5 separate regions of the Homo sapiens genome follow, and regions 2, 3, 4 and 5 are each linked to region 1. The links come from fine-mapping of genetic effects on gene expression. A gene starts in region 1. Each other region holds a variant in brackets. All regions are shown on one strand. Distances are between the middles of the regions. Region 1 holds the start of STX6 (syntaxin 6). Region 2 overlaps STX6 (syntaxin 6). Region 3 overlaps STX6 (syntaxin 6). Region 4 overlaps MR1 (major histocompatibility complex, class I-related). Region 5 overlaps KIAA1614.

Evidence for each region. PIP is the estimated chance that this variant, and not a neighbour inherited with it, causes the effect.
Region 2: its variant is fine-mapped to the expression of STX6 in whole blood (TOPMed, PIP above 0.99).
Region 3: its variant is fine-mapped to the expression of STX6 in whole blood (TOPMed, PIP 0.99).
Region 4: its variant is fine-mapped to the expression of STX6 in whole blood (TOPMed, PIP above 0.99).
Region 5: its variant is fine-mapped to the expression of STX6 in whole blood (INTERVAL, PIP above 0.99).

Annotation. Positions count from the first base shown.
Region 1 is chr1:181,019,776-181,025,818 of GRCh38, forward strand. STX6 (syntaxin 6) reads right to left here and starts at 3,095. Exons shown (of 8, transcript NM_005819.6): 1 at 2,864-3,095. The coding sequence starts at 2,898. RefSeq lists an enhancer at 2,835-3,618 and silencers at 3,027-3,156, 3,277-3,376.
Region 2 is chr1:180,972,969-180,979,011 of GRCh38, forward strand. It overlaps STX6 (syntaxin 6), which reads right to left. Exons shown (of 8, transcript NM_005819.6): 8 at 1-3,678. The coding sequence ends at 3,602. Among named protein-coding and RNA genes, the nearest start is that of KIAA1614-AS1, 21 kb to the left of the region's middle. The variant C/A (reference allele first, on the strand shown) is at 2,948.
Region 3 is chr1:180,988,475-180,994,517 of GRCh38, forward strand. STX6 (syntaxin 6) reads right to left here. Exons shown (of 8, transcript NM_005819.6): 4 at 4,889-4,951; 5 at 1,510-1,635. Among named protein-coding and RNA genes, the nearest start is that of STX6, 31 kb to the right of the region's middle. RefSeq lists a silencer at 2,335-2,495. The variant G/A (reference allele first, on the strand shown) is at 2,399.
Region 4 is chr1:181,044,213-181,050,255 of GRCh38, forward strand. It overlaps MR1 (major histocompatibility complex, class I-related), which reads left to right. Exons shown (of 6, transcript NM_001385161.1): 2 at 4,840-5,100; 3 at 5,799-6,043. Among named protein-coding and RNA genes, the nearest start is that of MR1, 13 kb to the left of the region's middle. RefSeq lists enhancers at 131-270, 391-630, 1,949-2,451 and a silencer at 682-831. The variant G/A (reference allele first, on the strand shown) is at 3,155.
Region 5 is chr1:180,947,785-180,953,827 of GRCh38, forward strand. It overlaps KIAA1614, which reads left to right. Exons shown (of 9, transcript NM_020950.2): 9 at 1-3,830. It overlaps KIAA1614-AS1 (KIAA1614 antisense RNA 1), which reads right to left. Exons shown (of 2, transcript NR_145481.1): 2 at 1,906-3,134. Among named protein-coding and RNA genes, the nearest start is that of KIAA1614-AS1, 4.1 kb to the right of the region's middle. RefSeq lists an enhancer at 1,641-2,191. The variant C/T (reference allele first, on the strand shown) is at 3,613.

The DNA.
Region 1 (6,043 bases):
TAGTGTGACAGAAATTAAATTTTAATTAATGTAAACTTGGTAACTGATAGCAATTCAGTTATCAAAAACCTTTTATGTATGTTTGGAACAATTAAAGAGTATGTAGGCCGGGCGCGGTGGCTCACGCCTGTAATCACAGCACTTTGGGAGGCCGAGACAGGTGGATCACAAGGTCAGGAGATCGAGACCATCCTGGCTAACATGGTGAAACCCCGTCTCTACTAAAAAATACAAAAAATTAGCCGGGCGTGGTGGCGGGTGCCCTGCCCATAGTCCTAAAAATACAAAAATTAGCCAGGTGAGGTGGTACACACCTATAGTCCCAGCTACTCAGGAGGCTGAGGTGCAAGAATCGCTTGAACCTGGGAGGCAGAGGTTGCAGTGAGCCGTGATTGCACCACTGCACTCCAGTCTGGGCAACAGAACAAGACTCTGTCTCAAAAAAAAAAAATGTATTTAATGAACTTTAAATACAGATCAATTATTTCTGATGAAAATTTAATGTCCAAATTTAAATGTGCAGTAAGTGTAAAATATGTATCAGATTTAGAAGACTTAGTACAAAAGTAAAATATCTCATCAATAATCTTTAATCACATGTTGAATATTTTGAATGTATTAGAGATTACATTAGAATTAATTTCACCTGTTCCTTTATATTTTACTGCGGCTACTAGAAAATGTAAAATGACATACATGGCTGGCATTATACTTCTATTGGACAGCAATGATCCAATAGATCCCAGGACAGCTGAAAGAGGAAATGAGACCAGAAGCAGGAAGAACAATTAAAAAGACTCTGATAAGCATCCAGGTAAGAGAGACAGGCCTGATTATCTAAATTCTGCCCATCTTCAAAACCTAATTCAAGATACACTACTGCCTCCAAAAGCTCTCCTAATCCTAACAATTCCCAAGGAGTTACCTTTCTCTGAACTCCTGAGGCACTTATCTGTAGCATTCACTTCAACACTCATTCATTTGCCACCTGTCATTTCTATTTAATTTTGGGGTAATTTGTTTCTCAGATTAGACCAGAAGCTCCTAGGCTAAGGGCCATAATTTAGGCACCTTTAATTTTTGCATGCTGTGTAATGCATTTTTGATACTTTTAATAAACACAGGTACATGACTCCCCAAAAATCTGGATACACCTTCATGGGTGACTTTACCTTTCCACAGCAGAAGGAACTGAGAATCTCTTTTCCTTCAAGAACCTTAAAGATAGGAGCTAAAATGATGTAAAAATCAATCAAAACTCCCTCCAAGCCAATGTTCCGATAAAGTAGTGATATTTAATCAGTGAGCAAGCATTAGTAGACTGTATAGGATACCATCAAGAAAAAAAAATGCCAAGACAGAAGAATTTAGGCTTTTGACAAATTCCATAAAAAGTCAAACAAAAAATTTCTGATCATCTCTGATCTCTACCGCCAGAGATAACCTTTGCCAACCTAAGCATTAAGAACTTTCAATCAAGGAAAAAACATCTATTTTAAAAATTAACCCCTAAATCAATCCTTCTAATAAATATCACATTTTCTAGGTAGGGATACACATATTACCAGTAAATTTACAACTCAGCATTTTCCCATCTAAATTAGAGTAAGGTGAAGAAAAAAAACTTTCCAGGGAAATATTAAGAAGTAGTATAAATGTATTTTACTGCATAATCGATAAAGTATTTCACCTAAAATACCATTTAAATTTTCTACAACACTTGACTATACAACGGCCAGCTTGCACCACTACAGAAATAGGAAGCTAGCAGCAACTAGTAAAAAGCAAGGGACATTCTGTGGTGATCAGTACTGACCTGGGAACTTTGCAGTTTTCAGATTTTTCATGTTTGACATTTAAAACAGAAAACTGACAAGTTTCTAATAAGAAACTAAAAGTTACATCAGAATTGATCTTCTTGCATGTGTTTAATGGCTACGAAGTGGATATTACAAAGTGCAGTTGAAGACTCTATCTCCAAAGAAACAATCGAGCAATCAAAGATGAGCTAGGATAGCTTGTAAGGGAACAGAAGGCAGTCCTTTCTATTCTGAAAGGCAGAAGAAATAGGAGAAACCTGTCAAACAACCTGGATGAAATCAAGGAGTTAACAAGCAACACTCATTTCCTTTAGCACTGTGAGAAAATTCCGGTTGCTAATAGAAAGCTGAGGAAAGTTTGGTTTGGCTTGTTTCATTTTGTTTTCCTTCCAAATCATCACTGAGTATGAACGACTGCTTTCCTCTCCTCACATTACTCAGTAAAAACTCCCCCATTGAATTGTCTTCCGGTGCCCTGCTCCCCAGCCTCCCAGAACGGCCCCCGCCCCCGCCTCCCTCCCAGCAAACGTGCTCAGACGCCTCTGGGCTTGTTGTGGTCTCGCCAGTCTGCGGACAAGCGCTCCAAACTCAATGGACAATGGAGCTCACCCCCGTCAACGCGAACTACAAAGCTCAGGAGGGCCATTTCCCTTTTCCTGCCCAGATGCTGTTTTCGCTCCTTCGAAGCAAGATCCCATGCTCGACTAGACGGCCAGTGTGCGCCAGGACCCGCGTGTCTCCTTCCCCACCTGCAGAGCTGCTGAGCCCCTCGGCCCCCAAATAAATTGTACCGCAGCACACAGGCCAAAAAGGGCCCCCCACCACCAGGGGCTTGGCTGGGGACAGTGGCTTCACGGTCCAGGTAGGGATGGAGGGAACGTCTCTTGACGCTTGGTCATGGCCCTCAAGACTAAGCCGTCTCCACTGTTCCCCCTCCCCAGCTCCAACTTGCCTCCCCTCCCCCCACTGCGAGAAGACCTAGGAGGTGCGGGCAGGCAGCACCGCCACCTCTTCCTCCGGTGGAGCGCTCGGCCGACACTCACCCTTTCACCACAAAGAAGGGGTCCTCCATGGACATGGCGTCCCGGCCCCGGCCGCCTTCACCTCCTCCGCGCACAGGGCGCCCGTGCCTCCCGGTCTCCCTCCGCCCACCCCGCCTGTTCCCGCAGCTGCCCGCGCCTTAGTCTGGGTGAAGCCGAGCAGCGGGCACGCGCACAGGCCAGGTGCACAGGACGGCCGCTGGTCCAGCACTCGCTCAGCACCACTGGCCGAATCCCGGACTCGGGCGCCGGCCCCCTCGGCAGCCTCCAGTCCCGGCTCCTCCCGAAGCGTCGGAGGGCCTGACCCCACCCCCGGGACCCTCGGCCGCGGCCAATCACGAACGCCGCCTGAAACACGACTTCCGCACCCCGCTCACGTGACCAGGGCATATATCTCTCTCTCTCTCTCTCTCTCCTCTCTCTCCTCTCTCTCCTCTCTCTCCTCTCTCTCCTCTCTCTCCTCTCTCTCCTCTCTCTCTCTCTCTCTCTCTCTCTCTCTCTCTCTCTCTCCCCCCCCCCCCAGTGGGCGGGGCTTACGCCTGCGTCCCTCGGCCCTGGAGGCGGAGCCCTCGGGGCGGTGGAGGTGGGCGGGCTTCTACAGCCCTCTCCTCAAGCTTGAGGGTGAGGAGTGGCTTGTTCCCTCAGAACTAGGCAGTCGGCTTTTCAGGATAAGCTGTAGTTGTACCTGATTTGCAAAATCCTCTTACCTTTCCTCTACTTTTAATACTTAATTTTGACAGTATGTAATTTATAAATCTATCTGGTCCTCGACTTAAAATGAAGCATAGTATCTGATTATAATGTTACACAGATCCTTTAAGTAGGTCTTGCTTTGTGTTGGACAGTGTGCTAAAGGTTGTGTATGCATCATCTCAGTATCCTTTGGGGGAAAGTATTATTCCCCCCTCCCCCTTTTTGGGGGGCAGGGTCTCTCTCTGTCACCCTGGCTGGAGTGTAGTGGCACAATCACAGCTCACTGCACCCTTGACCTCCTGGGCTCAAGCGATCCTCCGGCCTCAGCCTCCCGAGTAGCTGGGACTACAGGTGAGCGCCACCACGCCCGGCTAATTTTTAAATTTTTTATAGAGATGGGGCTCTCAGTATATTTCCTAGGCTGGCCTTGAACACCTGAGCTCACATGATCCTCCTGCCTCTGCCTCCCAAAGTGGTGGGATTATGGGCGTGAGCCACCACACCATCCATTTTTCTCATTTTGTAGATAAGAAAATAAGTTCAGAGAGGCTTGAAGACTTCCTGTAGTCACACAGCCTGGACAGGGCAGAACTGCAGATTCTGTGCACTTTCCACCAGATGGGGTGTACTTTCTGTTGCTGTACATTCTGCAAATAACCATGTAAAGTAATTTTTCATACAGCATATGGTGCTTCCCAGGAGAGCACACCTTCGAGGAATAAAGAAGGGGCCAGGTATGACAACTTCCTCTCACTGTGGTTCAAGAGCTATTCGAGAAAACATTTTGCCCAGAACCATTAACCAACTCATATGCTAGATATGCTATGAAATTTGTGGATGGGGATTGTGGACTTTGATTGCTGAAAATCATTGAGCACTTACTGTGTGTGTGTGTCAGGCAGGATGTTAAGTGTTATCTCAGTTGCTCTTACAATGTGATAATTACTGCTATCATGCCCATTTTATAAATGAGAAATCTGAGACTCGGAGGTTAAGTGACTTGCCCAAGGTCACCAGTCTGGAGCTGGCACAGTCCTTGGAGCAACACAAACCCCGTTTAAACCTTGGCTCTATCATTCAGTTCCTCATCTATAAAACATAAATAATAATAGCTAGTTCATGGGTTGTTGTGATGGTTAAATAAAAATGTGTGTAAACCTCAAGATCCCAAAGGACTAAGTTACTGAAGTCAGGAAAACCAGTAAGGACGCTGCTAAAGTCATGTGGCCTGAAGGGATGAGGTCCAGACCAGGATGACAGCGATTGAGAACAGAGAAGGAGTGAATCTGACAGATGTTTCAAAAGGAAAACAAGACTAAACACCTAGACATGATGAGGGGCTGAATGGGTTTCAGGAGGGGAGAGAAGAGAGGGGTGAAAGCCAAAATCCCTGGAGGAGCGAATGATGGAAGGCAGATGTGGGGAAAGGAAGCAGTGTCCAATACTAGTGATTGCTAATGTTTATTGGGAGAGAACTGTTTAATTTACTTAGCTGGGGAGGTGAAAACGTGTCATCGTTCATTCATTCAACAAGCACATGTAAATTGAGGGGTAGGTGAGCATGGTGTTGAAGACCATCCTTGGAGTCTGATTGCTTGAGTTCTGCTGCTTCCTGACTGTTGCATCTCAGGCAAGCCGCTTCATCTCTCACTATCCTCAACTGTGAAATAGACACCGTAATAACAGCTTCCTTATAGAGTGTCATGAGGTGATGTGTGAAAAGTGCTTAAAACAGTGCCTGACACATGTTGTGCTCCTACTGTGTGCTAAGCACTGAGACACAGGCATGAACAAGGCTTGGTTCTTGCCTTCAAGGAACTGTCAGACTGGTGGGAGAGACAGACTGGTGGGAGAGACACACAGTGAGAGAAGGGCACAGGTTGCCATAGAAACACAGCGACAAGATACCAGTATATTTGTGTGTTTTCGGGGCTGGGGCAGGGGGTTCCTAAGCAGTGACTAGAAGCAGCCAGGAGAAGGGGGCCATGTTGCTGGAGTAGAAGGAAAAGGATGGGGGCAGCAGGAGCTAAGCCTGGAGGTGGACAGGGTCAGATTATCAGGGCCCTTGTTTGTAATGTTCAGAATAGTGGACGCTTCCTATGGACAGTTCCCCATGGGGACTGAGGGAATTGACAGGGTCAGATTGGCATTTGAGACAGATGCTTCAGTGGCTAGGAGGTTATGGTCCAGAGGAGGGATGAGGGTATCCTGAGCTGGGCTTGTGACAACTAAGGTGGAGAAGAGTGATGCATTTGAGACATACTTTAGAGGCAAAGTTAGTATACTTGGTGACTGATTGGTTCAGGGTATGGGGGAATTGATGAAAGAAGAGGGAGGAAGGCTTCTGGGGTTGTAAATGGGTAGTGTTGGTTCCAACCATCAAGAAAGAGAACACAAGAGGAGGATTTGATTTAGGGTGAATGTAAATTAGCTGTTAGCATGTCATTTATCCCCACCAAACAGTAAACTCCTGGAGGGACAGGATACTAT
Region 2 (6,043 bases), 47 kb before region 1:
ACTGTCCTCAGGGGCGGACTTTGCTCAGGGATGGCGCACAGTGACTGCGGGGGCTTAAGTCCGGTAACCCTTTGGTTTTATTTCTTTTTATTCTTGATGGGCAAAAAGCCTCCTTTAAAAAACATTATTCTTAAGAAACCTGGGAGAGAAAAAAATGCCAGTGAGAGGAAGACAAAGAAAAATTAGAGGCAGTACATTCCATATTTCAGAACTTTAGCTTTCCAGACAGTCCAATTTTGTTTTGTTTACAAATTCATCTTGCAGTACAAGGTGAAGCCAAATGGTACAAAGTCCACAGAATTGAAAAGCCATTCATATTTATCATTCAATTTTTTGATCTTCAAATGTTATGAATTCTCCAAAAAGGTAACAGGGAACAGATATCCCTTTGGTCTCACTTTATAGACAGGGAAATTACCAAAAGAAAAATCTTGGCTCTACCATCTCTACTTACAGAAGGTAAAACACTTAACAGAGACAGATTTCTGTTGGAGTTAGACTAGATTTCTTTTCACAGCCCTTAATCTCACGAGGTGAGAAGGAGTGGAAGTTGCCAAGTTGTTGGCTACCAGACCCATCAGTCTGTTTAACTCTGGCTAAAAGCAGAGAATAATGGGCAAGTTACCAAGTTTCCCCCTTCAGCTCTGGCGTGCATTCTGAAATTGTGGAAGATCCTCATGTAACACACACGCTGCAACCTGCATTTGCCACACAGTCCAGGGCATATAGAGCATTGTGATTCTTCACAGTCCGCAGAGACAAGACCAAAAATGAGGACTAAAAACTAAAGGTAGCTGAGTTTTTCAGATGGATTTTCACTCTGGCAAACTCAGTAGTTCACTCCCTCCCACCCCTCAAATCATTTAAGTAAAATGTTCTTCCAATAAACATAAATTGAGCTCTTCCTCTGTTATCCATCACATTCTGCCAGTTCTTTAAAACTGGAATATGGTACTAGGTACAGAAGGCTAAAGGGGTAGGAAAGCCCCAAATACTATAAAGATGCACTTATAAGCAGTGTGGGGTTATCACCACTGTCTACTTACTCTCCCATTCTAGGACACAGGGTGAAGAGACCACCTGGGTTCCCTCTAAAGCCCTGAACATTAGGACCACTGAGGAGGAAATATTTGTCCTTAAAAATAAATGTAGGTTCCCTGGATTGTTCTCTTTGGCTGCCACATTTGGAGCCTGAGTGGAGGCCCTTCAAATTAACACTGGTTCTGTAGGGACTGCCCAGTCAGGGTGCAATGGGATCAGACACAGGATCAAATCAGCCAGGGGCAGAAGGGCATGGTGGCCCTACGGGTAGAATGCACTGTATTGTTAGTTAACTTTCTAAATTGTTCTCTATTTAGCTTCAGCCTGAGTCAGGTCTACAATGGCCACTATTTAGAAAATAATTTAAATCAGTGAGGTAAGCACGCCGATTTGAAATATATCCAAACATCATTAAGCCTCTGGGTCATAAAACTTGGTCCCTGAACTAACAGGAGTATCTTACTCATTAATGACTAGGTTTGTTCCAAACGGCCCCTGCTGACACACATGATCCTTTTGTGTGGCACAATAAATCTGGTAATAGCAGAACAATAGCATGGCTTTTAAATAGGGTAATTTTATAATTCCTTAAGATGCTGGTTTGCTTCTTATAATGTGTTGTGTGGATTACAGTACTTAGACAAGGTTCACATTTACTTTAAAAGACTTCTATATTTTAATGCAAATCTAAGGATCATCCCCTTTCTTAGTTTATAGAAGATTCAAACTTTGTAAAACATAAATAACCTAGTACTCTAAACATCTGAAGCCCTTTGTAATACTCACTGTTTTTTCCTAATTTGAAAATAACTTATTTATATATCAAACATTAGAGCGGAGTGTAAACATGGATGTCAATCACCCTTTTAGTTTCATAAATTTGCTTTTAGCTTTCATCAACAGGCATATTTTCTTAACCTACCATGATCTCAAATGAGATAAAATATCCTTCTTCAAAAATTGTTAAGAATATTTATTAAAAAGTGCAATTCAAAAGTTAGCTGGGCAAGCACATCATTGCAAATCACAAAAAAGGGTGAAAAAACCAAAACCCCCAAATAAAACCACATGAAATACAAACAAAACAAAACAAAAAGGTTTAAAAAAAAAGTGTGCTGAGGAATGCACCCAAAAAGACAAGGAAATGAGAAGTCAAAGCTAGAACTCTATCCAGATGTTGCTGTTCTTTCCAAGTGCAAAAGAAGGTGGTGAGGAGAGACCAGCAGCCTCCACCACCGAGTTCTGGCTCTGGGTCCAAATACTACTTTAATATCAGATTATTCATCAGGGAAGTTATAAAAATATCCTATATACATGTGCACATTTGAGGCATTTTAAAAAGTCATCAGAAGGTTAAAGTTTAGTGTCTCAGCAGTTTCAGCTACTTAAACTCAATTAAAGCATCTATCATTTAAATTTGGATTGGCTCAGTTATTTGACTGCAGATGATAAAATCAAGCTGTCATCTTAGGGAAAAAAAAGAACCAAGTTTACCTACACATCCTTGCCATTACCCACAGAGTAAGAGAAGTCTGGCCCAGAGCTAACCTTTTATGTCATTACGTTTCTTAATAAATGTAATAAATGTACTAACCACTCCCAACCCCAACCCCCAGTGTAGAGTGCCCTAAGAGTAAAAGAACTGTAATGAGGACAATCTGGTATCCAAATTCATTCAAGTGTGTTACTGAGCTGTTTAGCAACAACATATGTAGCAATCACCCTCAAAACGCAAGCTGCACCTCTGGGGAGGAAGCCCTGGTACAGCAACATCAAGTCGGCAAGGATCAGGAGCTGACCTGTGGCGACATCATTAACCCTTCCCTAAGCTATGCCAATGCAGAACCCTCTTGCTCTTTTTAATTGCTCCTGTCAGTTAAAGCCACAAGTTGTTAGCACCCCCAAA[C/A]CCCAGGGTGTTTCATTATTTTCCATTAGTTATTCTTACCACAAAAAAAAATGACCTGGAAAAGCAATTTTATCTTAGCATTTATCCCTGAAAAATGAAACACTGCATTTTCTGTCACAAACTGTTTCTGAGCCTTCTGTCCTCAATAATCATCAGCTCTCAGGGGATAAGAAATGCTACAGCAATGGGAAACGAAACATACCCAGAAGCTCGTATTCCTGACAGGTTTCTTTAGATGGGACAGCGGTGCACTGTCTGAGCACGGGGAAGGGTCTGAGCAGAAGAAAAGAGCTGCCAAAGATGCATGGAATGAGCAACAGCAAAACACCAGTGGAGTCTGTAAGTCCCTCCTCAGCAAACGAGGTCCCGGAAGGCAAGGCAGCAGCTAGTTCTCCTCCGAACTGGACAGGCGGCATGGGGCTTCTGTTGTCCAGCTGCAGCCAGGAGTGCAGACATCTATTTCCTCTTCCCACTGGCCCTTCCAGCGCTGGGATGGAGGAGCCATGTCAATTGTGGGGTCACACGGAGAAAAGTCAGTGCAGCAGTATGTTTCCAGGATAGGAATGTGAGTAGACGGCAATGTCACACGTGCTCAGCTTCTCCTCCTCCCCTCGGTTCATATGCAGGAGGAACTCGCACCCAGAGGCCCCGCCGTCACAGCACTAAGAAGAGGATGAGCACAACCAACAGGACTGCAAAGAGGATGGCTATGGCACACCATTGGCGCCGATCTGGAAGGCAGGACATGGGGATTAGCTCTCACAGGGACTCCACATTCCCCAAGATACAGTTATATGGAATTTATGGCACCCTTTGAAGCAGAAAAGGGGCAGAACGTGCAAATGACGGGGCCATGATCTTACACCTGCCTAGGTGCCTGATGCTCTAATGCTGCTCTGTTCTTGGCCTGCACTTCGCATGCAGTCACAACTTTGCCAGTCCCCTGAAAATGTCTCGTAATAATTACATGCTTTGTGTCTCAAGTCTTTAATTAAAATCTGCGGATCTTAGCTTTCTGCTGGTAGTTAGCATATCCTCAAAAAAGGTGTTGGCAATGGTGTTACAGATCAAAGCCTGCCTGCTTTAATCTCCCATAAAAGTCAAGTCATTTAATTAAACAATAATCACATTCTTTTCTCAATGAGCACAACGGGAGGAGGGAAAGGAGATGAAAGCTACTGCTGGTCACTTCAGGAAATATACAGCTGAAAAAGCAAGCTCCAGTGAGACAGCATGATTAATTTCACACCACACCTAGTCAAGTAAGATTACTTAACTAGTAACTGTGTTAAAGTACCTTGTACAGCTCCTCTGTAAATGAAAGTGGAATTTTTTTTCTGAAACTTTCTGCCCTACCAACAATTTGGAACAGCAGGCACAGGAAACAACTTGACTAGAGTCCATCCAAATGGCTGAGAGCAGGGAGGCCCTGTGAGACAGAAGGGCCCAGACAGGCCCTGGGGGAGCCCTGCTGCAGCTCACAATCCTGTGGTCCCAACTCTACAACAGCTGCCCCGCAGGGCTGTTGTGAGAATTAAACAACACAACCCTGTCATACACACACTGTGCAATACCCAAACCTAGGGCACAGAGGATGCTGTCAACATCAGGATGCTTCCTTAATTTGGAGACATGTAGAAAAAATGAGCAGTCCTTCCACTGATGAGTTTTGGCATCTTCCACAAAGGGCCCGACTGATAACAGAATTCACTAGCGTATGAAAATGCAGTACAACCACTAGGAATAAGAGTTCCATTTAAATAGAAATATAAAGACATATTGATTCACTAAAGTTTCTTTGAAAGCCCACTGATTTTAGCACACTATAGTTATTGAGAATCACGTTGCAAAAAGATCTCAATCTATGAAAATAAACTGCTAAACTCTCCACAAGGCAAAACATGTACTTAAAATTATTTTAAATATTATGGATATCAAAGTCTTAGAACTGGACAAGAGAACTGCCACCAAATTATAAGTAAAGCAAGTACCTTCTAAGTGGTGATCACCTTGGTCTACCTCAGACATACTAGAAACTCATTTAGTTAACTCTGAGCAGGACAAAGACCCCAGGTCCATCACTCGTTGTTCTCAGGTAGGACTGTTCCAAAGGTCTAGGGAAGGCAGAGATGGCCTACTGCAGGTCACACTTTGACCTGTTTAACTATTACTTCAATGGTCAAGAAAACTTTTATAACTGGCATTCTCTCATCTGATTAAAAATGTTAAATTTTTAATTTCCAGCCAAGTATGTAAGAAGCTTAGAAGTCATCACTCTGTCGTAACAAGTAAAAAGCTGAACAAACTGAAAAAGCAAAACTCTTCTTAGATCCATCAGAGAAGTGAGGTCACATGGTAAACTGCTGCCCCTAAAACTGCAGAAACCTACAGATGCATACAGAGAATCACAGCTTATCAGAGCAGAAACCCACGAAGCAACAAACTCCATAGGAACCAGTGTTCTGGTAGGAAAACCTTAGCTTTAATTGATGAGTCGCTGAAGGCTCAGTGTGGACAAGTCTGAGATGAAAAACAAACAAACAAAAACACTCCAGGTGGACCCAGGCGAAGGGGACCCCCACACTTCTGTGGGTTTTACCTCCAGGAGCTTGACCAGGTTCTCAGCGAATATTGGGAAAAATCCCCTCATGCTTCCAGCAGGCGGAGGGGAAAAAGAATCACTACGAAATACTCCAGAGCACTCTGTTCTAAACAAAGTCTGCCCTCAAAAGAAACTAACCAGAGTCTGACTAACCTGGGGGAAGGAAAATACCCAACTCCAGTCTTCTCTAGCCATCCAGTTCCACCTAACAGTAGAAAAACTGGGAAGCACTAGTGAAGTTCACGGGCCAGGGGCACAGGCTCACCAGAGGCTAAGACCTAATCACAGGACTAGAAAATGCCACCCCCCGGCCTCACCACCCCATCTATGGTAAAGGTCTATTTACCACAGTTCCTTTTACCCAGTATATCATGTCCACTTTTCAACAAAAAGGTAAAAGGCACACTAAAGGAAAAAGCAACAGTAGGAAGAAACTGCATATGCATCAGAACCAGAGTCAGATACAGCAGGAATGTTGGAATTATCAGAAGAGG
Region 3 (6,043 bases), 31 kb before region 1:
CAAAGGACCAGACCGTTGCCTCTGAGAACACACTGCTCAAAAGGCTGGATTGTTAAGCTACTGATATCTCCTGCTGATCCAACTTGTGAACAGTCAGCGGGGCTTGAAACCACCAAGAGAGATTTACTCTGGTTGGCTGACGTCCAATAATGGAGCAGACAATGGTTGAAAGCACACGTGCAGATGACCATTGAGACATGGGGATGTTTGGGAGGAGGAAGCCCATTGCCAAGATCAAGGTCTCAATCCACAACAGACTGCCACAGCTTAAATACAAGAGAGTCTGGCAAATCTCTGGATGTGGGGAAACTATGCAGTCTTTCCTCTCTCTTCAAGGACAAACGAAAGGATTCCCTGTGGCAATAAGTTACCTCAAGGACAACTACTGACTGACAAATATTTACTTTTAGTTGTGTTGCATTCTTCTCACTTTCTATAGAAAAAAAATTTCCTGGGTTTAATAGCAATTTAAGTAGACAACTGGTTAAGCAGACATACTAATGTAAAGAACAAAAGAACATATAAACTACATGTATACATAAAACACAATATTTAAGAATCAATAGTTTCAATGGGTACATGCTCCTCAAATCCCCAGACACATTATCATTAGCTTGCTTTTATTAATACAGCTACATATCAAAGGCATCAACAGACATAATCAATTTCATTTTCCTTCTACCCCTTAACCTACACAAAAGCAGTCATCTTTACATATAACAAAACCAACCAATAGGCCGGGCGCGGTGGCTCATGCCTGTAATCCTAGTACTTTGGGAGGCTGAGTCAGGTGGATTGCCTGAGCTCAAGAGTTCGAGACCAGCCTGAGAAACAAGGTGAAACCCCGTCTCTACTAAAATACAAAAAAAAAATTAGCTGGGCGTGGTGGCGTGCACCTGTAGTCCCAGCTACTCAGGAGGCTGAGGCAGGAGAACTGCTTGAACTCGGGAGGCGGAGGTTGCCGTGAGCCGAGATGGTGCCACTGCACTCCAGCCTGGGTGACAGAGTGAGACTCCGTCTCACAAAAAAAAAAAAAAAAAAGAAACCAATCAATAATTTTCGAAGAAAAAAATGAGAGATCTTTCTGAAAGTGTCTTTGCTGAGATGGACAAAGGTCTGTTTTTTCTAAGAGAACTAACTGAGCTTGGTTCTTTATTTTTTTAGAGAAAGGGTCTTGCTCTGTCACCCAGGCTAGAATGCAATGGCATGATCGAAGCTCACTGTAGCCTTGAACTCCTGGGCTCAAGGATCCTCCAGCCTCAGCCTCCTCAGTAGCTAGGACTAAAGGTGTGAGCCACCACGCCTGGCTGAGCTTGGTTCTCTTGAAGCAGTCACACTGTGAAGATTTTGAAACCCTTTACATATGCAATTATTAAACACAATCAACACAGGACAAGCTCTGGCTTACCCTCCTTGTCACTAAGCCACAAGACCCCATGGCTGGCAAAGGAACTAAGGGGGTGTCTTGTTTCCCACTGGCCCGTCCTAAGTCTGGGGTCCTTGGGGTACCTGCTGCTGTGCCTGCTGCTCCTCAATGAAATGAGAATTGGCTCTCTGGAGCTCTCGGTCCAGACGCCCATATTTATCTGTTGTTCCAGTGCTCCAGTTCTGGCTGCCACTGTCTCCCAGCAGTGCCTGTGTGAGAAGAACAACCAGAGGAGTCAGGAGAAACAAACAATTACTATCTCTGAACAAGTGATGCATCAAGAGTGATATAAAGAGTTTTCACATTTCTTGTCTATTTTCCCCTGGGCAAGGCTTTTATGTAGTGGTGTAGGTTGGTGCCTGGGTGGTACTATTTAAGGAATTCCAGGAAGGGCCCTCTATGTCTTTAAGCTCTCCCAATAGGCCTCACAATGGGCTTTGTCCCCTTAAAGTGCAAATAAACGTCTGCTAAATCAACAAACACCCATCTATATACTGTGTTATAATTGAAAAGCATTCAATCTCTTGTAAAAGAGCTCTTCCTGGTACCTGTGGAACTTCAGCAACCCATAGGTTCCAGTCAACCTGATTCCGAAGATCTAGAGTACTTTTTTAAAAAAAGTGTGACCCAGGGGAAGTTGTGGGTTTTTTTGGTGGGGGGAAAGGGAGAGTTCCCTGGAATGACAAGAAGGTAAGCCATAGCCCTTCACACACAAAGGCACAAGAACCATCAATGTCTGTTAAGTTTAACCCATGAATAGAATCCAGGGTCCTTCAGGCTTTCCAGATGACAACTGGGGGTTACTTTACAGGCAGGTATGACCACAAGGAATGCCTGACCCTGGCAACCGAGGCAAGGGCTGCCCTAAAGTCAGAGTTCTCCACCAGGGCTCCCAGACACAAGGGTCGGGTTTCCCAAGTATGAATTCAAGGAAGTTTGCAGCCATAAATGGGTATGTCTTCCTCACATGAA[G/A]AAGACAGGCAGGAATGTGAGAGTTCCATCTCAGCAGTTGGTTCTGACCAGATCCCCACAAGCCTTCCTGACTGGTCAAAGTAACTGCTCACACCAGCCCCGCAGGCAAGAGCCAGAAGACGCTAGCAACTAAGACTCTTTTTCCTTGTAGAGTTGCCAAATTTTCCTATCGGGTAATTTAAAAAAAATCTCAGGCACTATTAAAAGCCTGCCTGGTTACTTGGTTCTGTCTGAAAACCCTTCCAACAGCCCCATGACCTTCCTCCATACTGACACTGACCTCTTCTCAGACTGCGAGGGGTGAACTCCATCAAATGGCCAGACTTCAGGGGCTAGGATCAGGGAAGCTCAGTTATTAGAAGCTTTTCTTACAAGAGCTTCCAGGGGCCCAGAGCTTCAGTCCAGCTGGATGGTGACTGTCTCTGGTGTAAAGCAGATCCAAGGCTTTTTGTGGGTGGCTCTGCCCTGACCTGGTCTTAGGGCTATCAAGACTGAAAAGATCCTGCTCATTATGATCCACACTCTAAGGACCTCTATGGAAGACATGAGGAAATAGTGACAATTTTTTTAGGGTCAGAAAAATGCTATAATGCATCACTGGCCTAAGGACAGAGAACTGGGACACCACCAGGGCCTTGTGTGCTCCTGAGGTCACAGGGCTATTTTTCCTACGTTTTCCATGGTGTACACTTAGGTAGAGCTAAGTATAGGGCAAATCATCCACGTTTTATTGTGAAATAGCTTAAAGTTCATCAGTCTGATCCCAAATGTTTGTGATAATAGGATAGAGATTGAGAGAGGGCCCAAGGACTGGAAGATGCACCTGTGTGTGGGTGCCAGAGCAGGGGTGCTGGTGAGGCAAGGAGCAGCACAGAGCCTGGCACCTGGCACAACGTGGCAAGGCCCATGCCTGCTGGAGTGCTTAGAGAGCCCTGATCCTGCTATTCCTTGAAAATTTGCAACTTGACATTTCACTCATAGCCTAAAACAAAATTCCAAGCCATAACTAGATAGGCAATATATAAATACATACATGTATATATACTTTATATAAAATATATTTAAATTTATATATATATATTTATAAATATATAAATATAAATTTTATTTACGTTAGCCCAACTATACTATCTAGAGAATAAAACATTCAAATTAAGAGTAACAGCATAGGTGTTACTGACCTCACTGTCACAACTACTTCAGTTACTTCCACTTCCTATAAGCTCAAGTGCAAATGAGAAGAGAACTCCAAAACTAGCCAACTTGAGGGCATTCACTAGCTTCTTTCAAGAGAGGGAGCCAGATGGAATGGACCAGCTAGTGGCTTTTCCTAGCTATATTGCTCAAAAAGAAAGCAAAGGAGGCAAATAAGATTAAAAAGCCAAAAACAAAACAATGACTTGAAAAATGGAATGCAAGAAAAGGAAACAGGAAAATTAAGTTAGGTGATATTTATAGAACCCTGCCCCTTCTTCAAGCTTCCATAATATTTGTTTTCAAAATTAAGTGTCTTGACAAATACCCACAGGTATGAAGTACTGATTGCTAGTTAGTATAAATAGTGAAATTTCTCAAGAGCCTACTAAATGGACAATTCATAACTTTCTGGAATCTTAATAAAATGAGACTAAGGTAAGTCATTTAAAGCAAATAGTATCATTTTTCATGAAGTCTTTTTTACTTCTAAGGAAAATGGATATCCACAGAATTTAAAAAACTACTTCTGTCAAAAAAATTACCTAACAGTTTAGCAACAGGCAAAAACATTCTATCCCACCAAAAAAAGTCTAAATCAAATCTCAATCTAAATGAAAGTCCAAATTCTAGATGATCATTCTACATTTTTTAAAAGGACTGTATTTTAACAATTAGAAAGGAGCTTCTATCAATATGCCAAAGTATGTAATTCTTTTAAAACTACTTAAAACAAAGAGAAACTTAATTTAACACACAAGTTTAAGGTTCCTCTAATGTCTTTACATCAAATGTCAATCCTTAGATGTCTAATGTGTTCCATGGGTAGGCAATGTAGTAACTGCTAGAGAGCTCAAAACAAACAAACAAACAAGAAACAAAAAACCATGACACACATCTCTCCTCACTGTCAAAGGGCCTGGAGCCCAGCAGAGAGAAAGACAGTAATTATAGCCCTTCAAAGAGCCTGGCACACAAAATGTGTTCAATAGGTACAGAATAAACACATTAAAAAAGTAAAAGTACTCTGTGATAAGTGCTATAGTAAGGGTAGGCAAAAGGTGCTATGGAGCCCAGAGAAGAAGACCAGAGGGTAAGAGGAGGGGAGGGAAATGTTGACAGGGTGCTGGGACAGGCTGCCTGGACTGTCACAAAACCTCCCATGGTCACACCAGGGCCTGCAAGCAGAAGTCTTCCTCTTGATTACATGATCCATGGATGGTCAGCATTTTTAAATTCCAAATATCTAACTGTATGCTTTCTGTCATTGATAATTATATTCTGATGTTTTCTCACCTGTCTATTTTTTCTTTCAGCTAATGCCTGCACAGATGAAGTTGACATCTGATCTTTCATGTCCTAATGAGAAAGAAGATACGAAAACAAATGAAAAATATCCTTAAACAAAATCACAGTTAACATTTCATACATTAGCAAAACACACAATTTATTATTACTTTTTAAAAAGAAGACCGCATTTCTTGGCTTTATTTTCAGTCTCAAAAATAAAGAAAATAAAATAAAAAGAAAGATGGTCCCTTAAAAAGAAGTAACCTGGATACTAATTTGAATAGGAGGAAAGAGAAAGGAATTAACATTTACCAGGTACCTACCACAGGTCAGAAACAGTGCTAAACACATACACACATTATCACTGAATTTTCACAAGGACCCTGTGAAGCTGGTACTATTTCCATTTTAAGGTTGAGGAGACCTAGGTCCAAAAAGACGATGATACTTTCTCAAAGTCACATCACTAATAAAGAACATCCCTGGGGTACAAACACAAAAGCACGTGTTCAAGGGCTTGCATCTTTTTTACAATATATGTAAAAAACCATGTGCTTTTAGTATAAAGTATATTTACCATTAAACACCAAAGAATACTTCCAAATAGTGGTACAACAGGTCACTTATTTTATTTCTGAGTTGGATTCATGAAAGGTATAGACTATTCCTAACATCAGAGTGAATTTCCAGAGTGGTGTCAAAAATAATTTTGTATGGAATGAAAAGTGAATAGATCCATTACTTTATCTGAAGCAAAACACTTTATTAAATATGAGTCATTCTGCTTATTTAGCTACAATCCAATCTACTATAGAATGATTTGAACTGAATACATGACTGCAACAACAGTTTTTAAAAGGTCGTCAAAATATAATTTATGCAAACATCAAAGTGTAAGACTTTTAGAAACTTCTTTAAAGACCCATGACAAGTAAACAGATGAGACAGTGCCACCGCTTTTACAATCCCAGAACTGTGGTAAATGTGAGTGAGAACCACCTGATTCAACTTTCAAACCACTCATCTATCCATTTAGCAAACACTCACTGATGTCTACTATGTGGCCAGGCATACAGCAGTGAATGATACTAGCTAGGCCCCTGCCCACATGGAGTTCACATCATGATGACATGCCTGAGTCAGTCACGTGAGTGTTGTTAA
Region 4 (6,043 bases), 24 kb after region 1:
TCGGCCTCCCAAAGTGCTGGGATTACAGGCGTGAGCCACTGCGCCCGGCCTGATCTTTTTTCTTAACTATATGCTTATAAATGAGGAGGAAGGAATGAATATCATTAAGTGGTATTCACCCTTGCAAGATTCTCTATAGTGGCAAGGGCCAGGTTAGAAGATCTGAATGTAGGGGAGGTCCTAAAGGTGATGGCAGCAGCAGGGTGGGCAATCTGGAAAGACTGGGGAAGTGTTGTGTAGTACAGCTCTTAGACACAGGCAAGAGAAGCCCCTGGATATGGCCCCACATTCAGAGAGCCCCACTCTGGCCCTCTGCTACCCACATCCTTTCCCACAGAGCGAGGAGTGCGTGAGGCTGAGGGGAGGTGGTAACCCTGTGTCTGGGCCCCTCCACTCTAGACCAGACTCCAGGCACCCAGGAACCTGGAGTTCCCCACTCAGCTGACTCAGAGCTGCTGAGGTTTACACAACAAACTCGCACTTTGGCCCATCCTCCTAAAGGTGGACTGGCTGCCCTTGAGGGCCTTGCTAGGCCTGAGGGGTGGCCAAGAGGTGGGAGGATCACTTAAGCCCAGGACAAGCTCAGACAAGAGGCAGTTTGTGGCTGAGCCTGAATAAAAAAGTAGAGGTGTTTAATTGTGGGAGGCCCTTGGCAGTGCTGGAAGGAGCAAGAAACAGGAAGAAAAAGAGGTGAGTCTCAGGCTGAGGGCCGGGGACTGGAGGGAGACACCAGCTTTCTCTGTGCCGCCCCATTCAGGCCCAGAACTTCACACAGTGTGAGATTTTTTAATTTGAACTTGGTCTTCGAAGCCATACAAAGGGCAATCTCTCAAGGTGGGGGGATAGAACATATTTCAAGTTTGTTAGATTGATTTATTCCTTTTAAATATCTGGATCTCTGGTATGTGAGCCTCCATCTGTCATCTCAATTTAGCCATGAAATTTTAGGGATGATCCTGTTTTAGGGATGAAATGTTTTTGGAGGTGGGTTTTGAGGACTGGGAAGGATTTAGATGGGTCAGAATGGCAGGAGATAACAGGACAAAAGGCTTGGACATGGGCATCTGCAGACACCGGCAGGCAGAGTAGGGGAAGAAAGCCATTGTGGCTGCATACCTTCTATTTGCCAGCTTTTGGGGATGGCATGGGGTACGTAGCCTTCTCAGCCTGGGCTCCACCTCCCAGGCATCGCCTCTGCCCGTGACGCCTGTCACTGTGCTCCAGACGTCCCAGGCCATTTGGTTCCCATGCACGCCCCGCCTTCTCGAACCTCCTGCTTGCACATGTGGTCTCTGCCCTGCTCCCCCTGCCCGCCCTCCTGCATCCCCTCCCAGCCCCTCTGCCTACTCACCTCCTACCTGTCCCTGAGACCTCCCTAAGACATCACCTTCTCTGGAAGTCTCTCCTAAGGGCCCACACCAGCTTGGATCCCATAACACTGAGAGGTGACAGCGTGCTGGCAGTCCTCACAGCCCTAGCTCGCTCTTGGCGCCTCCGCTGCCTGGGCTCCCACTTTGGCGGCACTTGAGGAGCCCTTCAGCCCACCGCTGCACTGTGGGAGCCCCTTTCTGGGCTGGCCAAAGCCGGAGCCCGCTCCCGCAGCTTGCAGGGAGGTGTGGAGGGAGAGGCGCGAGCGGGAACCCGGGCTGCGGGCGGCGCTTGCGGGCCAGCTGGAGTTCCAAGTGGGCGTGGGCTTGGCGGGCCCTGCACTGGGGGCAGCCGGCCCTGCCGGCCCGGGCAATGAGGGGCTTAGCACCCGGGCCAGCGGCTGCGGAGGGTGTACTGGGTCCCCCAGAAGTGCCAGCCCACCAGCGCTGCAGCTCGATTTCTCGCCGGGCCTTAGCTGCCTTCCTGCGGGGCAGGGCTTGGGGACCTGCAGCCCGCCATGCCTGAGCCTCCCACCCCCTCCATGGGCCTCTGTGCGGCCCGAGCCTCCCCGATGAGCGCCACCCCTGCTCCACGGCGCCAGTCCCATGACCACCCAAGGGCTGAGGAGTGCGGGCGCACGGCGCGGGAATGGCAGGCAGCTCCACCTGCAGCCCCAGTGGGGGATCCACTGGGTGAAGCCAGCTGGGCTCCTGAGTCTGGTGGGGACGTGGAGAACCTTTATGTCTAGCTAAGGGATTGTAAATACACCAATCGGCACTCTGTATCTAGCTCAAGGTTTGTAAACACCAATCAGCACCCTGTGTCTAGCTCAGGGTTTGTGACTGCACCAATCGACACTCTGCATCTAGCTACTCTGGTGGGGACTTGGAGAACCTTTGTGTGGACACTGTATCTAGCTAATCTGGTGGGGACGTGGAGAACCTTTGTGTCTAGCTGAGGGATGGTAAACGCACCAATCAGTGCCCTGTCAAAACAGACCACTGGGCTCTACCAATCAGCAGGATGTGGGTGGGGCCAGATAAGAGAATAAAAGCAGGCTGCCCGAGCCAGCAGTGGCAACCGTCTCGGGTCCGCTTCCACACTGTGGAAGCTTTGTTGTTTCGCTCTTTGCAATAAATCCTGCTGCTGCTCACTCTTTGGGTCCACACTGCCTTTATGAGCTGTGACACTCATGGCGAAGGTCTGCAGCTTCACTCCTGAAGCCAGCGAGACCACGAGCCCACCAGGAGGAACGAACAACTCCAGACGCACCGCCTTTAGAGCTGTAACACTCACTGCGAAGGTCTGCAGCTTCACTCCTGAGCCAGCGAGAGCACCAACCCAACAGAAAGAAGAAACTCCAAACACATCCGAACATCAGAAGGAAAAAACTCCAGACGCGCCACCTTAAGAGCTGTAACACTCACCGCGAGGGTCCACGGCTTCATTCTTGAAGTCAGTGACACCAAGAACCCACCAATTGCGGACACACCACCACCCATAATGCCACCTTGAAACCACTTTGTCTCCGTCAGGCCCTAAGCTTCTTGGACAAGCGGAGAGAAGTTCAATGTGGGAACAGCAGGGAGGGCCAAACAGTTTTGTTTCATTTTGGTTTACTTTTAACCCTTATTACAATCCTTATAACTAGTAAGTAGAAAAAGAATAAGAAAATGGTTAACAGCAGTGGTTTGACATAATAGGAAAAGCACTGTGCTTTAAAAAAAAAAAAAATTTCGGCCGGCCATGGTGGCTCACACCTGTAATCCCAGCAATTTGGGAGGCC[G/A]AGGTGGGCAGATCATGAGGTCAGGAATTCGAGACCAGCCTGACTAACATGGCAAAACCCTGTTTTTACTAAAAATACAAAAATTAGCCAGGCATGCTGGCACATACCTGTAATCTCAGCTACTCAGTAGGCTGAGGCAGGAGAATCACTTGAACCCAGGAGGCAGAGGTTGCAGTGAGCCAAGGTCACGCCACTGCACTCCAGCCTGGGCAACAGAGTGAGACTCTGTCTCAAAAAAATAAATAAATAGGCTGGGCACGGTGGTTCACGCCCATAATCCCAGCACTTTGGGAGGCCAAGGCAGGCGGATCACGAGGTCAGGAGTTTGAGACCAGCCTGGTCAATATGGTGAAACCCCATCTCTACTTTAAAAATATACAAAAATTAGCTGGGCATGGTGGCACGCGCCTGTAGTCCCAGCTACTCAGGAGGCTGAGGCAGGAGAATCACTTGAACCCAGAAGGCAGAGGTTGTAGTAAGCCAAGATCATGCCACTGCACTCCAGCCTGGGCGACAGAGTGAGACTCTGTCTCTAAAAAATAAAAAATAAAAAATAAATAAAATAAATAGGCCAGGCGCGGTGGCTCACGCCTGTAATCCCAGCACTTTGGGAGGCCGAGGTGGGTGGATCACGAGGTCAGGAGTACAAGACCAGCCTGGGCAAGATGGTGAAACCCTGTCTCTACTAAAAATACAAAAAAATTAGCCAGGCGTGGTGACCAGTGCCTGTTATCCCAGCTATTTTGGAGGCTGGGGCAGAGAATTGCTTGAACCCGGTAGGCGGAGGTTGCAGTGAGCCGAGTTTGTGCCACTGCACTCCAGCCTGGGCAACAGAGCAAGACTCCATCTCAAAAAAATAAATAAAATAAAATAAATAAATAAATTTCGGCCAGGCGCAGTGGCTCATGCCTATAATCCCAGCACTTTGGGAGGCCGAGGTGTGCAGATCATGAGGTCAGGAGTTTGAGACCAGCCTGGCCAACATGATGAAACACTGACTCTACTAAAACTACAAAAAATTAGCCAGGCGTGGTGGTGTGTGCCTGTAATCTCAGCTACCTGGGAGGCTGGAGCAGGACAATCACTTGAACCCAGGAGGCGGAGGTTGCAGTGAACAGAGATCGTGCCATTGCACTCCAGCCTGGGCAACAGAGCAAGACTCCATCTCAAAAAAAAAAAAATGCTCAGTGCATGTGTTTGTGTGCCTGTGTGTATATGCCCACACGTGCACACACAGAGGTGGAGTGGGGGTCCTCATTTATTCACCAGAGGCTTCTTTGGTAAAAGAAGAAGGCTGCGTCATCAGGGTTTTCAAGCCTTCAGAGTTCCCGAGGGCTCCCGCAGGGACAGCTCCCCCTGTATCCCCAATGAGTGGTCTTCTCCCTTCCCCCTACAACCATAGCAGCACTCTATATTTTGTCTACAAGTTGAGATTACCTATAAAATTCCATCCTGCATTTGCAAACCTGAACGAGAAAGGCTCCAAGTCACTGGTCTGGAGCTCTTACGTCCTGTCCAGGCCCCGGTTCCTGGGTTCTGTGGTTCTGTAAGAGGAAATGGCAGCTGGGGCGTGGAGGCCTGGGTACAGCTGAGTAGGGAGCACTCGTGTGGGGCTAAATGAATGCAGTTGAAGGATCTGGATCATCTGGGACCCTACATGTCTTCCTTCTTTGCCTCCTTTCCAGGGACGCACTCTCTGAGATATTTTCGCCTGGGCGTTTCGGATCCCATCCATGGGGTCCCTGAATTTATTTCGGTTGGGTACGTGGACTCGCACCCTATCACCACATATGACAGTGTCACTCGGCAGAAGGAGCCACGGGCCCCATGGATGGCAGAGAACCTCGCGCCTGATCACTGGGAGAGGTACACTCAGCTGCTGAGGGGCTGGCAGCAGATGTTCAAGGTGGAACTGAAGCGCCTACAGAGGCACTACAATCACTCAGGTGTGCATGCGGCAGAGACAGACGCTTCCCCCATCCCACCCCAACCCGCAGAGACCCCTGGGCTGGCCTCCAATAAGCGGATGCTGAATTGCACCTGCTGTAGCTTTGGCAAAGCCTGAGGAATCAGGTTGGTGGAGTTCAGGGCCTCCCATCTGCCTGTGCATCTTCTGGACTGTCCCTCTCTCCCCCAGGAGCACTCTGTCATTTGCCCCACCCACTCTTCCCCATCTCTGTATCCGTATCTGCATCCCATTTCCACTCAGGCTTCTGATATGCATCTCCTTTTCCATTCTAAATTTGCCCATTCTGCGTCTCACTTCCTGGTAGTCAGGCCTAGTGACTTGCTTATGAGTATCGACAGTAACTTTCCCAGGGGTATTTCTGGCTCCTGCATCTCTCTCCCTCCTCCACTGCAGTCAGAATAGCCACAAAGTTTATCAGTCATTCCCATTACAGGATAACTCCCCAAGGCGGGAATTAGCACACTCCTTTGACAGGCAGTAGGTACTTCACAGATACCTGCTGACAGGTGGGCTTCCATAAGGGGGACCTCCTGGGGACTCAGCGATGCCATGGCAGGCCTGGGGGGTGACATAATGTAGACCAAAGGATGCTTCCAGCCATGCCCCTGCTCCCAGCACTTGAGAGCCCACCTCTGTCTCTGTGTGGACCCCTCTGGGCTTCTGTGTGTGTTCCAGGGTCTCACACTTACCAGAGAATGATTGGCTGTGAGCTGCTGGAGGATGGAAGCACCACAGGATTTCTGCAGTATGCATATGACGGGCAGGATTTCCTGATCTTCAATAAAGACACCCTCTCCTGGCTGGCTGTAGATAATGTGGCTCACACCATCAAGCAGGCATGGGAGGCCAATCAGCATGAGTTGCTGTATCAAAAGAATTGGCTGGAAGAAGAATGTATTGCCTGGCTAAAGAGATTCCTG
Region 5 (6,043 bases), 72 kb before region 1:
CCTACCTAGAAGAGTCATAAGGAGCATTTGGTAAGGCACACAGGAAAGGGCCTAGCATTTTTCTTCCCTCCCCTTCAGAAAGAGAAAGTCTGGGGAAGAGAACCCCAGACAGGGACCAGCGTGATCCGCATTCACCTGTCGATGTGAGTGCACACACAACAGGTCATTGTACTCTGCCGCCCACCCTCCCCCAGAGTCCCTTTTTGCTCCCTTGTAGGCAGTGGGAGCCCCTCCCTGTCACCCGTCAGGGAGCTCTGATGGGCAGGGGTCTCTAGTGACCCAGGGCCCCCGGCACCCTCGCCTGAGTTGGTGCCAGCTCCCCGTTGTGCCCAGGCACTCCCTGGTCCTGCTGCCATCATGGGCGCTGGATGGCACACAGGGGTCCCCACGCACATGAAGCCTGGCGAGTGCTGGGGCCTCCGTGTCCCAGGCCATCCTCCAACAGCAGAGGGTCGCTTCTTCCAGGCTCCAAGGGGCTGTGAGGAGGGCTGGCTTGCGCCCCGCACTGAACCGGCAGGATGCTGGTATTAACTTGCTGGCTTTCACATCCGACTCTATATGAGCCTGTGAGAACAGCAGGCTTTGCCTTCTGCTTCTAATTGGATACAACATAGAGATCACACATCCTCAACAAAGGCCATTTCCAGCAGACAATAAATGCCTATGACAGCAGGCTGTCATATTTGTGTCACGAATTTCAGTTGCGAAACCTACCCGAGTCTCCCCAAAATGGCAGGCGTGACGTCAGTGTCTGGCCTAGCTCTGGCAGCATTCTTTCAGGGTTTATCATTAGTCCCCACCTGCAACTCCCACAGCACATCAGACACTTCTCTGGGTTTGCCCCAGGGGCCCCTTCTTACCTGCCCCCTCCCCGTGCCACCAACCCGTAGACAGGGAGGGCAAGCAGTGAAAGGTCCATCTAGAGGAGGTAAAAGACAGGGCTGAGGGAAAACGCCTTGTACAGTCAGGATGGCAGATGTACTCTGTCAGGGAAGACAGCCCCACAGAAAAGGCTCGGCTTGGCCAAGAAGCAACAAAAGGGATTCTACACCTCAGACCAGGGAGGGGGAATGTGTACAAAGATTGGATTTACTAAATTCAGAGCCACAGACTTTCAGGTACTTCGGTGAAGATCAGTGCTCTTTCAAACCCACACTTCAGAGGCAGGCTTTAAAACGCCTGACTTCTGTCAGGGCCACAGGCTGGGCTGCCCAAAGCTCCTACGGGGCTGGGGGATCCGAGAGAGGACTTCCCACTAGTCCAAGATGTGGTGACTAGTTTCAAGCCAGAGATTGAGGAGCAGACCTGATGCCCTTTCGGGCCCCTGCTAAGAACCTGATTCGAGGAAAAGGAAGTGAAGACAGTAACGCGTGGGCAGTGGCCTCATGTCTGAAATGCAGAGTGAGCCGAGCTGGGCTGCGAACAGCGAGGGTGCCAAAGGCTGCGCTGAGCAGCCTGAATTCCGCCAGTGCTGATGCCCACACCAGGGGTGTGCCCCGCAGTCCCTCCAGCAAACTCAGCTTGTGTCTCAGCCCCTGTGTCCACCCAGCATGAAGCATGGGCATCAGGGGGTCCAGCCTGCCCTGGGAGAGCCAGCACCTCACTTACTCTCCCAGGTGGGAGCAGCTGGAGGGGAATTTGAAAGGTTTCCAGCCGCGGTTGAGGCCGGCGGGCGGGGGTTGGGGGCAGGGGGCCTCCTCAGCTGGACACTTCCCAGCCCAGCCAGCCCAAGCCCCACAGGGCCTGCCCCACTGACGGGGGGCTCCCTGAGAGCCGGAGCCTGGCAAAGAAGCAGAGAAGCTAGTTCCCGCAGGCTGGCTCTTGGCACCTTCTAGACCCAGGCAGGGCCTCTTTGGGGTGGGGAGGAGGGGGCATGTGCAGAAGAGGAGAGGGAGCCACCGCAGCTTTGAAATATGTGGCTAGAATTTTTATTTTTCCTGGGGTTTTTTGCTCAGATGCTTCCCCATCCCAATTGAGGAGCCATATCTGAGTAAGACTGAGGCCAGTGTCAGTCTTTGGCAATAGAGTGCAGCAAACCAGGCTTGGATGTGGCTCAGCCACTTTTGCTCTTCCGATGATACCTTCCCACCACCCCGGCCTTTACGCTGGGCCTGGGTGACCTGAGGCAGCAACTGGATCATAGTGCCAGGCACTGAGTAGGTATGGTTCCTAATTTTTAAAAACTATTTTCCTCCCAATTCTACAAGAAAAGCTCATCTCAGAAAAAGATTAGCTCACTCACTGTCAGGTATAAATAAATGACAACAGTTTAACGCGTTATTTGCACTAGGAGCATTTCCACTTTAAAAGCAGAGACAGTGGAATGGAGTTAGACCATGGAGGAGGCGCACTGTATCTATGTCTAAAGCCAGTTGTGGTTGTGAGATGGAATAATGAGGGGTGTGTGTATGTGTGCATGCGCACAGAGAAGTGCCTGGTATGAGCACCTCCTCCCTGTGCCACACAAACAGCACCTCATCAACATGGTCAGCATTCCAGAGATGCACTTCTTCGATTTGGGTGTCATTGTGAAATTCTCCTGTTTTCCTCTGCAGGGATCTACGTGCAGGAGATGGCTGACATGAGCATGGCCAAGCTGTACTCAGGGCTGCTGGGGGTGGGCGATGAGATCCTCGAGGTGAACGGGGCCAAGGTGGCAGGGCTGGGCTTGGCTCACATTAAGGAGCTCCTGGCCCACTCAGAGAGCTTGTCAATCCGTGTCCTGAGGCAGAGACCTGTCCCACGGTGACCCAGAAGTGCCGCTGCCCTCACTGTCACGGCCTCGGAAGCCCTGAAGCACTCAGGGTGGTTGGCAGGAACGTGCTGCACAGAGCTGCTCTGTGGCGGAAACAGATCCTGGCAGCATCTAACCCCTTGGGCTGTGGCAGGGCTTCTGTGGTGGGCTGCCTTTGGGAGACGCAAGGAGCCTGTTTGCATATTTTGTTTAAGGCCATTTATCCAGAACTAGAAAAAGAAAAAAATGGGTCTCCTTCCATGTCTGAGGGGGTGTCAACATCTACTTGTACCTTTGTTGGCAGGGGGAGAAGGGAGATTCAGTGGATCCTTTGGTTGATGCCTGAGAGCCGGCCTCACCTCCTGGTCCCATGCCTGGTCAAAGGCTACAGCCTCCAACACTGTGGAACCAAAGAAAGCACATGTCCATATTGGCCTTGACCCTTCCCTATTTCAGCCACGTTCCTCCCTACTCCATTCACTGCCCTTGCCCTTTATCCAGAAATGGGCAAAGTGTCCCGGAATACCAGCCTTACAGCCATTGACCATATATGCCAAACCAAAATCAGAACGTGTGGTCTGGCAGGAGTTTTATGCCCCTTCGGGGTGTGGGAATTCTGGGAGATGTTATCTGGTAGCCAGAATATTAAAAATTTCTAGGAAAATTTTTTTATACATAAAGTTGAAAACAACAACAACAACAACAAAGACCAATTTCAGGACGTGCTACTGTGGTAGCCAGGATCCAGCTAGTGGGACCGGCCAGACCAGCCCCATGCCACCCCGGCCGCTGCCTCTGCCCAGGTGGAGGCAAGAGTTGCTGCAACCTGACCTGTGGCAGCCTCCATCTTAGTTCTGTCCAGCTTGGAGACAGGGCTG[C/T]GGCAGGTGCCTGGCCATCACAGCTGCATGCTTTCTGCCCAGACCTCCTGGCGGTGCTGTCGGTGGGCAGGTGGGTGGGTGGGCAGCAGGGAAGCTGCAGAGCGCGGCTGGGCCATCTGCCTGGGCCTCAGTGCTGCCTGGAGGGCTGGGACTCTTTGGGAGTGGATGGCCATGTGTCAGTCTTAACTTACTAAAAAGCAAAGCTAAAGCTTCTCTCACTCTGAGTTGCTAAATTCTCGGCTGGACACTCACTTGACCCTCACTAGCCATGGGCAGGACCAGGGAGTGGGGTGCTGGTGGTGGGCATGCCAGAGGAAAGGCTGGGGAGGCCACGGGTTAGGGTGACAGCCAGGGTAGATGCAGAAGCCTCCAGACCGTCCTTTGGCAAAAGAAAAGCCCTGGACAAGGTTTATGACCAGGAGAGAAGAAGCCAAGGGACTCTAGCTGGGCACAACTGAGGAGTGGAATAGGAAGTTCAGGGCTGTTTTAGAACTGGCCAGGGTGCCAGCTGTGGTTAAAAAAAAAAAAAAATCCTGGAACCAAGAAACCCAACCCTCAGCAGAATCGGGTTTAAAAGAGTGTCAGGGCAGCTTTCATTGGGCAAGAACACTGAAGCAGGCCTGTGGCCCAGGGACAAGGTCGTGGGGGTGGGGAGGCAGTCCTGTGCAGTGTTGGGAGTGTGTTCCCCCACCCAGGGCCTTTGCAGCAGGAGCCAGGTAGAACCCTGTCTTCATGATGCCCATGGGAGGAGAGGGAGGGGCTGAGCCCCATGGCTCACAGAATGGGGTAGGGGGGTGGAGGAGGAATTAGGGGGATCTGGCAGGTGAGCAGAGGGGCCAGAGGAACAAGTGCTTGGGGCTTCAGGCTGTGAAGAGGGCACTGGCACTCTTCAAAGTGTAGAAATGAGCCCACAGCAAGAAACTTCAAGTGTGGAGAAACCCTGGCTCCTCCTATACTGCAATTCTTGGCCTAAGGTCACAAAACTGGAGAAATTTCATGTTGAGAAAAGCTCCTGGGGGCCAAAGACAGCTCCACTTTTCTCTGAAAAGGACAACTTGCCTTCCCAGGTGGGAGGAGGTGGAAGGGGGTGGCTGGGGCTGGGAGGACGGGAAAAGGCCTCAGGCGTATCACCTCCCGGGCTGGTGACATACTTAGTCCTTAAATAGTCCTGCCAGGTATGTCCTGCTCATTGTCTTCATTTTGCATAGATGGGGAACCAAGTTCAGCAGCAGTGACAGGGCATGCAATCCTGCCCCTCTGACTTGGGGCCCACTTTTCCCACTGCAGCTGCCTCCCCATGCCAGAAAAGGCTTGGTGCTAGGGGAGGGGCACGAGGCACGCGGGACACTGGAGGCTCCCAGGCCTCTGGACGGTGACCTAATTCCAAGGAGGCAAAGGCGCTGGCATCCCAGCTTCTCCCTGGGGCAGCCTGATGTGCAGGCCCTGCCTTGTGTGGAAATGGGAGGGGGCTTTGGTTCCTCCAGCCTCCTGTTTGACCTTCCCCAACTGCCTGCATCTGCCTGCCTGGGGAGCTGCTGACCTCGAAGGCCTAGGGCAGCCCTGCCTCACACACTGGAACATCAGAACCTTTTTTTTTTTTTTTTTTTTTTTTTTTTTGAGACAGTGTCTCACTCTGTTGCCCAGGCTTGGAGTGCAATGGCACAGTATCAGCTCACTGTAACCTCCGCTTCCTGGGCTCAAGTGATTCTCCTTCCCCAGCCTCCCAAGTAGCTGGGACTACAGGCGCCTGCCACTATGTCTAGCTAATTTTTGTATTTTTGGTAGAGACAGGGTTTCACTATGTTGGCCAGGCTGGTCTCGAACTCCTGACCTCATGTGATCCGCCCGACTCAGCCTCCCAAAGTGCTGGCCTGAGCCATAGTGCCTGGGCCATCAGAACCTTCTTACTGAGAGCTTATTAACCAGGAACCAGGCCTAGGCCAGGCAAGAGCCCCCGGACTTAAGAAAGACCCGCAGCCTCAAGGGGCCCCAGCCCAGGGGGAGGCACACACACATTACAGCGCCGGATGCAGGGTATGCTGCAAGAGGAGCTGCAGCCGGTGTAGCCTGTGGGTAGCCTGTGGACAGCCTGGGGCCGTGATTCGTGGTTGGCCGGGTAGTTGGCAAGGGCGCCAACCGGGCAGGTGAGCACAAGCAGGGCTTTGTAAAACGAGTAGGAAGCTACAGCAAGGGCCAAGTGGCTCAGGCACAGAAACGAAGCAGCCACATGCAAAGGTGTGGGTATTCCCGGTGTCTAACTTATGTCCCTCCCGCGGTTCACAGAAGGCCCCTGACACTGGGACTACACGGAGCAGAAAGTGGCACCCCTTTGCCTCAGGCACCTCAGTCTCCTCGGGGCTTGGGGGCATTTTCAGAAGCCACCCGCAGAACCAGCGTCCCGGGCGGCGGCTGGTTTTCCCCTCTTTCCCGG